3 linked regions of the Homo sapiens genome follow. The protein of the gene in region 3 purifies or fractionates together with the protein of the main gene of each other region. This does not show direct contact. Each region holds a gene or a part of one and is shown on either strand. Other genes may lie near its edges. The genes, in order: SMAD5, RNF139 and KCNH2.

Region 1 (3,654 bases), on a different chromosome or scaffold from region 3:
GGGGCTATAAAGAGTTTCATATGCCATTTAGCCTATCACTTAGTTTTATCCTATATTTATTTCCATATGATAGCCAACAGAAATAGGGCATTAAAATTGAGTTTAAAAAAATGTACACCAAGCACAGAGAGCCAATAATTGAACAGACAGGAAGGTATGCTCCTTCTTACACTAGAAACTGGAGGGACTTAACAGCTATGAACCCATTATCTGCTATTATCTTGGCCTTTCATAGTATACCTTTGGTTTATGAAGACTTGACTTGATAATACCCTTTTATTGATGTATTTTGTCATTTCTTAGAGAAATGACCTCAAAGCTAGAAAGAAAACCAAGGTAATCATAATATTTAGAAATTCCTGTGTACGTGAGGTTCCCTGATTCTTCTGAAAAACTGCAACCACTGACTGAACACAGAACGTCATTAGTGTACCAAAAGAGATGCAGTGGTACCTCAGCCATAAATGAAAACCTTATAAAATTACGGTATATCATGAATTACAAATGAATCTATCACATTACAAAACACACACACACCTCACCTCTCTTTCAGCTCAAGCATCCCTTCTTCGGGGAAGTCTTCCCAAACCGTCCTGGCTAGAAGTCCCCCTCTTATATGCTTACCGCATCACATACTCCTACTTTGTAGCACTTACCACACCTATGTTTTTACATTTACCTTTCAAATCTGTCCCCACAAGAATGTAAATTCCACGAGAAGAGCTGTATCTGTTTTCACTCATCACTGTAAGCCTAGTGATACATATGCTCAATAAATATTTGTTTAATGAAAGAAAGGGTTTGTGATATTAGCTCTGGTGGTGGGGTTAGGTGTACTTTTCACTTTCTGCTTCATCTAATTCTATATTTTTTAAAATAAACATATTTCTTGAAGAGTCAGAGGAAAAACAGGTTTCAAAATTAAAGTGCAGCTATACCTCAGCCATATTATGAACCCTTACTAAAGAGAGGATTTACATTATCATGAGTCATTCCTGCTTCAAAACAATTCTCTCTAATATACTTGGGGTTATACAAATTTGGAGGTTGAAACTAAGAAAAATCAAATCAGAAACTAGGTACAAATACTTCCATAACTATAGTACTCTAGGTTAATCAACAGAAATACAGAAATGATTATCATAAGGTACACCTACTTCTTTAAGTATATGTGCATTAACTGACTCAGCAGCTATAACAGCCATGAATCATTAAACACTTATTGAGCACCTACTAACTAGCAGACATTGTAGGACATGCAGGGGTTTATCAGCACTAGCCAAGGGTGAAGGAATAAATGAGAAGGCCTTTTTCTAAGTCCCATACAAAGGTACTATATGAGTGAAGAGTGGGAATAGCAAAAATGCAAACGGGACAGAATCTCCCTTCACAGAATAACGTAGCACGACAGACACCAAACTATACCCCTATATGTAAGTACAATGAGATAAACTCAAGTTACTAGAGGAACACAGAGAGACAGAGAAAGGGCATGTAATCCAGGTATCTAGCACTTTTCACAGTGTGTCCTGTTACTACAAATGAGCTGTTGCTCCTCAAAACAATGAAATCAAACTCCAGAAGCATTATTCCTGCTCCCAATAAATATTAGTAAGAACTCATTCTTCAAAAGCATTTATCTTCCTATACTGGAATGTCTTTTGAACCTCAGATATTACAAATGCCATTTTCTGCTTATACCACTTTTCTTAATCCCTGGCCACTAATTTTTAGCTCTATCGTTATTTAAGTCTCAGCTTTAGCTCTCATCCCAGATACCTTCCCTGATCACCCCATAATCCTATATAGAGTTTCCCTAATCTCTAATCCAATACTATGTTCATTTTCTTCACTGTATTAACTGATTCATAATAATTTGTTCATTTACTTTATTTCTGTCTCTCGCACTAGAATATAATCTTTAAAAAACAGTACCACATACATTACAATAACTTGTCAAATTCATTCAAGTCATTCATCCAAAAGAATATTTATTAAGATAGCATTTTAGGAGCTGGGAATATAGAAGTGAATAAAAGGAACCAAAACACTTGTCTTCATTTAGCTTATATTCCAGCAGAAGGAGGCCAACGAGATATAGTAAATGATATGTTTGTTAGGTGAAAAGTGCTATAGAGAAAAATTAAAACAGGGGAAGGTGGACAAGAAGTCCTGGAAGAGAGGTGTAATTTTAAACAGGGTGGCTGGGCTGGGTCTCACCAAGAAGGTGCCAACTGAGTTAAAATGTTAAGGAAATAAAAGAGTGAGCCAACAGGCATATATCTAGGGGAAAACCATTACAGGTAAAGGCAACAGGCAATGCAAAGATCCTAAGGTAGGAGCATGTCTGGCATGCTTCTGGCATGAAGAGCATATACTGGCTAGAAGACCAGTATAGCCTGAGAACACAGTGTACGAGGGGGAAAAGGTAAGGAGTGGGGTCAAAGAGATACCAGAGAGCCAGAATGGCCATGCTGGATATAAAGGCTTTAGCTTTTACAGTACTCTAAGGAAACTGTGAACTCAGTGGAGAGCTCTGAGCACAGACATGATAGTTCTCGACTTACACTATTAAAGAATTATCCTGGGCCGAGGTGGGCAAATTACCTGAGGTCAGGAGTTCAAGACCAGCCTGGCGAACATGGTGAAACCCCGTCTCTACGAAAAATACAAAAATTAGCTGGGTGTGGTGGCATGTGCCTGTAATTCCAGCTACTTGGGAGGCTGAGGAAGGAGAATTGCTTGAGCCCGGGAGGCAGAGGTTGCAGTGAGCCAAGATCATACCACTGCACTCTAGCCTGGCCAACAAAGCTAGACTTCATCTCAAAAAAAAAAAAAAAAAGAGTTATCCTGGGCCAGGCGTGGTGGCTCATGCCTGTAATCCCAGTACTTTGGAAGGCCAAGGCAGGAGAATCACTTGAGCTCAGCGGTTCAAGCCTAGCCTGGGCAACATAGTTTTTAAAACTCCATCTCTACAAAAAAAAATTGTTTTTAATTAAAAAATTAGCCAGGTGCAGTGGCACATGCCTGTGATCCCATCTACTTAGGAGGCTGAGGTGGGAGGATCACTTGAGCCCAAGAGGTCAAGGTAGCAGTGAGCCAAGATCATGCCACTGCACTCCAGCCTGGGTGACAGCACAAGACTCCGTCTCAAAATAAATAAATAAATCCTGGCTGGTATGTTGAGAATAAGCAGGAGGAGGGGTGGACAGCAATGATAAAAGCAGCGAGACCAGTTCAGAGATGCAGTAATCTAAGGGAGGGGAGAAGATGACGATGGCTTACAACCAGGGTGATAGCAGTGGGGTGGTGAGCAGCAGACATATGAAAGACAGTAAGCTTCCTGATGAAGGAGATCATGGGGTGTATGAGAACAAAGGAGTTAACAATGATTCCAAGGTATCAGCCTGGACAACTGGAAGAATGGGGTTTGACATCAACTGATTTGGCAAATGCAGATAAGAAAGCTAAAGGAAGATTCAGGGTTAAGTTTTATACACATTAACCATATGAATAAAATGTTGCTAAGCTTCACAAAGCTTCTATTTCAAATGAATTCATGTTGAATCAATAACCCAAAGGTCCTGTTCTTACCTAAGGTTATGGAAGTACTACATCCTGACCAACTTTCATAATAAACACACACACAAACTG
Region 2 (3,654 bases), on a different chromosome or scaffold from region 3:
CTAAACGAAACTCAACCCAGAGCAGCATAATGCTGAGTTAGCAAATTTAAATCCAAGGCAGAAAATGCAAGCCTAGGAGTTTGTTTTAATAGTATTACTAATATGGTGATAATTCATTGAGGTGGGAAAAGGCTTTAAACATAACAGAAGACCCAGAAGTTCCAAGGAAAAATCTGAAAAATTTCAGTACATAAAAATAAAAAGCTTTTTTATGGCAAAGCTTAAAAAAGAATCCTTAAATGACAAACTGAGATAAAATACTTCTATCATAAGTGATTCACGTTCCAGTAAGAGTTTTACCCTGCCAGGGAAGCTGAGGCAGGAGAATCGCTTGAACCAGGGAGTTGCAGGTTGCAGTGAGCCGAGATCGCTCCACTGCACTCCAGCCTGGGGATAGAGTGAGACTCTGTCTAAAAAAAAAAACAAAACAAAACAAGAAAAAACTTATACTCCCTTAGGAAAATGCCTAAGACAAGCAATTCACAATAAACAAAATGCAGATGTTCAATAAGCAAGAGAAAAAGTATTTAGCCCTTCCTGCAGTAGCTTGATTTTATGGGGGAAAAAAAAAAGTACCTAGCCTTGTTTATAATTAAATACTGTCAAGACCGCTTACGGTGGCTCACGCCTATAATCCCAGCACTTTGGGAGGCTGAGGCAGGCAGATTGCTTGAGGCCAGGAGTTTGACACCAGCTTGGCCAAATGGCACAACCCGTGTCTACCAAAAAATTAGCCGGGTGCAGTGACTCCTGCCCATAGTCCCAGCTACTGTGGAGGCTGAGGCACGAGAATCTCTCGAATCGGGGAGGTGGAGGTTGCAGTGAGCCAAGATCGCGCCACTGCACTCCAGCCTGGGCGATAGAGCGAGACTGTCTCAAAAAAAAAAAAAAAGTCAAAAAAAATTTATCAGATTGGTGAAGAGTTCAAAGTTTTATTAGTTTTGCAAAGGTATTTACCTTTTTGAAATAGGTAAATTTATACAATTTTGGAAGACTTTTTTTTTTTTTTGAGACGGAGTTTGCTCTTGTTGCCCAGGCCGGAGTGCAATGGCGTGATCTCGGCTCACCACAACTTCCACCTCCCAGGTTCGGGCGATTCTCCGGCCTCAGCCTCCCGAGTAGCTAGGATGATTACAGGCAAGCGCCACCACCCCCGGCAAATTTTTTTCTATTTTTAGTAGAGACAGGTTTTCTCCATGTTGGTCAGGCTGTTCTCCAACTCCCGACCTCAGGTGATCTGCCCACATCGTCCTCCCAGAGTGCTGGGATTACAGGCGTGAGCCACCGTGCCTGGCCCGGAAGACTCTTAATTTCAGTGTAAAACCATTTGGCAGTATCAACTGTCATTTACAACTGACTTCTCAGTGTTTTGTTTTGTTTTTGAGACAGTCTCACTCTGTCACCAAGGCTGGAGTGCAGTGGCGTGATCTCAGCACACTGCAACCTCCACCTCCCAGGTTCAAGCGATTCTCCTGCCTCAGCCTCCCAAGTAGCTGGGATGCCTGGCTCGTACAACTTTTGACTCACAATTTCAATTCTAGGGAATTGGCCTAGAGAGATAGTTTGCTTAAGGACTATGGGCAAGCATTACTGGAAATAACAAAGCAACAAACTTAATCTAAATATGTATTGATACAAATCTGTTCATTGTATTAGGTCTAGCCATGCAATAAAGTTCTTGAAAGAAATGAGATAGCTATTTTTGGTGCCGAAAAAGACTTCAGAAAACCTCTGAAGTGAAAAAACAAAGCCGAAGTAATTATCACTGGCAGAGGAATAGACAGAGATTTCTCAACAGTGGCAGTATTGACATTTTGGACAGGATAATTCTTTGTTTGCGGATGGGAGCTCTCCTGTGCACTGTAAGATTTTTAGCAGCATCACTATCCCCTGCCCATTAGATGCCAGTAGCACCTTGCACCCCCACACCCCAGTGTGACAGCCAAAACTGTCCCTGGATATTGCCAAATCATGGTTGAGAACCATTGGGATAGACAAATAGATTAGTACTTAGCCTTATTTATAATTACATAGCCCAGAAACAGACACCAATGTATATATAGAAATAATGTGTTTCAGAGATAGAATTGAAGTACATTGAGGTAAATATGGACTGTTGAATTAATGATCATTTTGTTACACCTTTGGAAATAAATTATACTAGATGTCTACCTTATGTCAATATATAGACAGTCACTTCTAGGTTGAGCAGTGTAGTGAGACCCTGTCTCTGCAAAAATAAATATTTAAAATAATAGCCATACTTGGTGGTGGGTGCCTGTAGTCCTATCTTACTCAGGAGGCTGGGGTGAGAAGATCGCTTGGGCCTAGGAGTTCAAGGCTGCAAGTGAGCTATGATTGCATAACTGCACTCCAGCCTGGCTGGGTGACAGAGCAAGACCCTGTCTCTTAAAAAAAAAAAATAGTCATTTCTAAGTGTATTCTTACCTAGATGTATATGTAAATATGAAATGCAGAACTTTAAATTTTTAGAAAAAAATATGGAATATTTTATTTTTCCAATCTTAGATTAAGGAAGAAATCCTTAAAAATATATAAAAGCAAATACATAATGAAGATTGATAAACCGAATGATATTGAGGTTAAAAACCTATGTTAATCAAAAGATCGCACCACTGCACTCCAGCCTGGGCAACAGAGCGAGACTCCATCACTAAAAAAAAAAAAAAAAAAAAAAGGAAGTCAAATCTTGGGTAAGGGGGAACTACTGTACTTACATTTACCCATTTATTATAAAGGCAATTACAAAGGACACAGATGAATTAACCCGATGGAAGGAGATGTACAAGGTGAGACAAAGAAGGAGAGAAGAGGAGAAGGGGCGTGGAGCTTCAGTGTTCAGCTATCTGAGAGCTCACAGAACTCAGTCCTTTTGGGCTTCTATGGAAGTTCATTAAATAGGCAAGATTGATTAGATCACTAGTCATTGGTTTATGGACTCAAGTTTCAGCTTCTTTCTTCCCAGAAGTGGCGGCTGGGGGTAGGAATCAAAGTTATAACCCTTAATCACTGGGCTGATTCCCCTGGCTACCTAGCCCCCATCCTGAAGCTATCTAGGGGCCCCCAGGCACCAGTCATCTGATTATTGTACAAAACAGTCATCACTCCAGAGATTCCAAGGATTTTAGAAGCTATGTCAGAAAATGGGACAAAGACCAAATATTAATATTTTTTTTATGATATCACAGATGGGAAAGACAAACTAGAAAAACTTGCTTTAACTCTTCATTTAACACCTCTCTGTAGGGTTTGGCTTTTTAAAATCCATGTTCATATATTTTTGATAAAAGCATACTTATTATAAGTTTAGTTTAAAAGCAAAAGTTTAATTTTGTGTTAATACTTAGAATACCAGGTTTTTTTTCAACCTAAAATGAGAATCCAATAGAAATGTTTTCTTTATAATTTATCAAGTATACCAACAGATTAACAACATTTCAAGACACTTTGTTGTAAACTTCATTGCGGAAGGCTCCCTTGGGAGTAAGGTAGTAGTAACATTTATTTCTGTGCTTTTCCATATTTATTCTGTCAGGTATTGAAATGTTTTTCCACAGGTTGCTTTTTGTTTTAGAGGTATTTCGGGTACTTGGAGAATTGTAAATATTATGTTTTGTACCCTGATTTTTAGTC
Region 3 (3,015 bases):
GGTCATGGGAATGAGTCACCCTGAAGGTTGCACCCTCTTCAGGAAGCTCCTCTTGAGATCCAGGATCACAGGGGACCAAGGTGATACAAGTGAGGTCCATCTGCAGCCAGACACCAGGTGAGCTCTGGTCAGGGCTGGAGTCACCAGTGTGTCCGGGGCCCAATTGTATTGGATAAGATAAGGCTAAGTTGTGGGTGGCAGGGGGAGCCAGGACTCAGACCAATTTCAGGTTAGGGTCAACGCAGGCTCAGGAACTGGGTGAGGGAGACAAGTGCAGGGCTGCTTCCACAGTCAGTGTGAAGCCAAGCTGTGGGAGCCAGGGTGCCCCACCCAGCAGAGGCACATGGCCCTCAGGGGCTAGACACCAGGTCAGTGTCCCATCAGGACTGCCTCTAAATGCATGTGGTTCAGGGGGTTTTTTGTTATCTTGAATCCAGGGCCCTACAGAGACAAGATTCTGTCTCCCTGGAGATGACCTGTGTCAGCCCCCAGGGAGCACCCCCACTGCACACACCCAGACCTGGATACAGGGGCAGCCCTGTGGGCCTGGGCATGCAGACAGACCCGGATTCCTGTGCAGGCACACCTATGCATGTCCAGACAGGAACACAGGACACAGCAAGTAACAGTTACACCCTCCCAGCACCACTGGAGTCTCCTCAGGATAATTATTTATTATTCATAGTCATCAGCATCTTCATTAATTATTCATATGATCCTTAATTATTATCCTTAACAATAAGAGCAGTAAATAGCAGAAAAGTCCTTGAGGTGCCTAAGGCCCAGGGCCGGGTGCCTCCGGGCAGTTAGACCAGCTAATGCCCTCAGGGCAGTGGGGGGACCACAGGCCCCACCTACTGCCGGCCCTGCCCCTGCCCCTCTCACTGGGGCCCAGGGGACTGCAGGAGAAGATGGTCCCAAGGGCTGGGGGAGGAGCTGTGCTTTCGAGTTCCTCTCCCCTTCCACGGTCAGGGCCTCCTGAGCAGGGCCTCCAAGGGGAGCGGCCCAGCAGCGCCTTGATCCCTGGGTGAGCCACGTGTCCACACTGGGCAGCCCCACTAACTGCCCGGGTCCGAGCCGTGTCTGTGCAGGGGCTGGGAGGTGAGGGCCCCCAGCTGGCCCGGTAGGGAGAGGCGTCGTGTGGGGCCTTCTTGGGGAAGCTCTGGGGCCCCCGGGGGCAGCTCCTCACACGCCATGAACTGGGAAACCTGCAATACACACAGAGCATGGGCAGGCGAAGAGGCCATGGAGGAGGAGGAAGGGGAGGGAAAGGGGCAGGAGAACCCGGGGACAGAGGATGGACGGGAGGACAGGAGGGCCAAGAGGAGAGTCAGGTGGGCAGAGAAGCTGGAGGGGACAAGAGCCAAGGCAGCGAGAGCAGGACAGGGGCCACCAAGGGGAGGCACCAAGGTGGGAAGTAGAGAAAGGCATTCTCTGAGAGCAGGAGCCAAACAAGAGAGCTGGGAGCAGGGAAAACCCTAGGCCCCTGTCTCTTCCCGAGGGAATGTGGCCGCTGAGCCCAACCCAACCTGGAACAAGCAGTCTCTGTGTTGGGACAGAAGCTGGGACAGAAAAAGAGACAAGATTCCTTCCCGCAATCCAGAAAGAACTCGGGGACCTAGAAACAGAGGCAGGCTGGCGGCCAGGCATCTGAAGGCCAGGGAGAGGGCCGGGGCAGGCGGGAGGGGTTTGTGGGTACTGAGCGTCTGCTGGTGAGAGCTCTGCGGGGGCGGCTGCGAAGGGAGACTGGCACATTTGCTGACGTGGGCCCTCGTGTCTGCAAACAGGAGCAGGCAGCATATGGGAGGGGGGAGCGGATGCCAAGGGAAGTGGGGAGGGAGCAGATCCCAGGCCGCCTCTGGCAGCCAGAGGAGTCCCCACCATGGACGCGGAGGTTGACACAGACACCGCCATCCTGCAGAGGCCAGGAACATGCAGGTCCACCCAGGAGAGGACAAGGGGCAACTAAGGCCCATCTCTAGCAGAGGGGGCAAAGCAGGCCCAGGAAGTCCTCCCCTGGAGGCTTGGCCTCTGCACCCTGGGAAATGCCAAGCACCCTCAAGATGACCCTGTGACAGCCACTGCCAAGGGCAAGGATGGGCAGGACGGTGAGACCAGGGAGTGTCACTCACAGAAGGGACCCGGGACCCTGTCCCTAGATACTCTGGTATGCAGCCTCCACCGCCACGTCTCGGGCTCAGTCAGTTCTTGGAGACCACCCGTGGCCGTGAGACAGGCACCACCGTTGGAGCTGGCTCTTCAGGCGATGCTCCGGGGCCTGGCGGTGGAGGCTGTGGACACTAGGGGAGTGAAGCTGCGGGCCACTTAGCCTACAGGTTCCCTGCACCCAGCTGTCTAGGGGCTTTGGACGGGGGACTCTCCTGCCCTACCCTGAGCCTGCAGCTCCTGAAGCAGCCTTCCTCCAGGAGGACAGGGGTGGGAGGAGGGCAGGAACAAGGTTCAGGGAGGCTGGGCCACAGAGCCCAGCAGAAAGGCAGCAAAGCAGGTTTGGGCTGGAATCGGGGAACAAGCGGGTCACGGTACATCGAGGAAGCAGGGCTGGAGCTTACCTGAGAAAGCGAGTCCAAGGTGAGGGTGGGGAGGGGGCTGACGGGCAACAGCGGGGATGTGGAAGTGGGGCCAGGCCCCGGGGTGGTCACAGCACTGTAGGCGGGCGGGACCAGCGTCATCTGCCTCTGTAGCAGCTGCAGGACAGTGGCCATGTCTGCACTCAGCCGGGTCTCCAGCCTGGGGCAGGAAGTGGGGGATGCTCAGAGAAGTGGGGACACCAGTGACAGCCTCCACCGGGAGTGGGGAAGGGGAAGGGGAGGGGGGAGGGGCAGCCTGTCAACCCAGGCCCTCCGCGCTAGAGGTGTGGCAGCCCCCAGCTGGGCTAGGAATGGAAGAAGGGGATCCAGCTGCTGCACACACAGACAGGCCCTCTCCCTCTACCAGACAACACCGCCAGGACCTGGACCAGACTCCAGGGCGTGCCCCCCCACCCCACCTGCACTC

Evidence for each region.
Region 1: the proteins of KCNH2 (region 3) and SMAD5 purify together in Homo sapiens (affinity purification with mass spectrometry; one large-scale study listed by BioGRID and IntAct). This does not show direct contact.
Region 2: the proteins of KCNH2 (region 3) and RNF139 purify together in Homo sapiens (affinity purification with western blotting, with the first as the bait; one study listed by BioGRID). This does not show direct contact.

Annotation. Positions count from the first base shown.
Region 1 is NC_000005.10:136,139,212-136,142,865, reverse strand, and holds part of SMAD5 (mothers against decapentaplegic homolog 5), read right to left. Parts: intron 1-3,654. UniProt on the Homo sapiens protein: Transcriptional regulator that plays a role in various cellular processes including embryonic development, cell differentiation, angiogenesis and tissue homeostasis.
Region 2 is NC_000008.11:124,477,729-124,481,382, forward strand, and holds part of RNF139 (E3 ubiquitin-protein ligase RNF139), read left to right. Parts: intron 1-3,654. UniProt on the Homo sapiens protein: E3-ubiquitin ligase; acts as a negative regulator of cell proliferation through mechanisms involving G2/M arrest and cell death.
Region 3 is NC_000007.14:150,944,307-150,947,321, forward strand, and holds the end of KCNH2 (voltage-gated inwardly rectifying potassium channel KCNH2), read right to left. Parts: intron 2,749-3,015; coding exon 2,571-2,748; intron 1,209-2,570; coding exon 1,059-1,208; 3' UTR 655-1,058; downstream 1-654.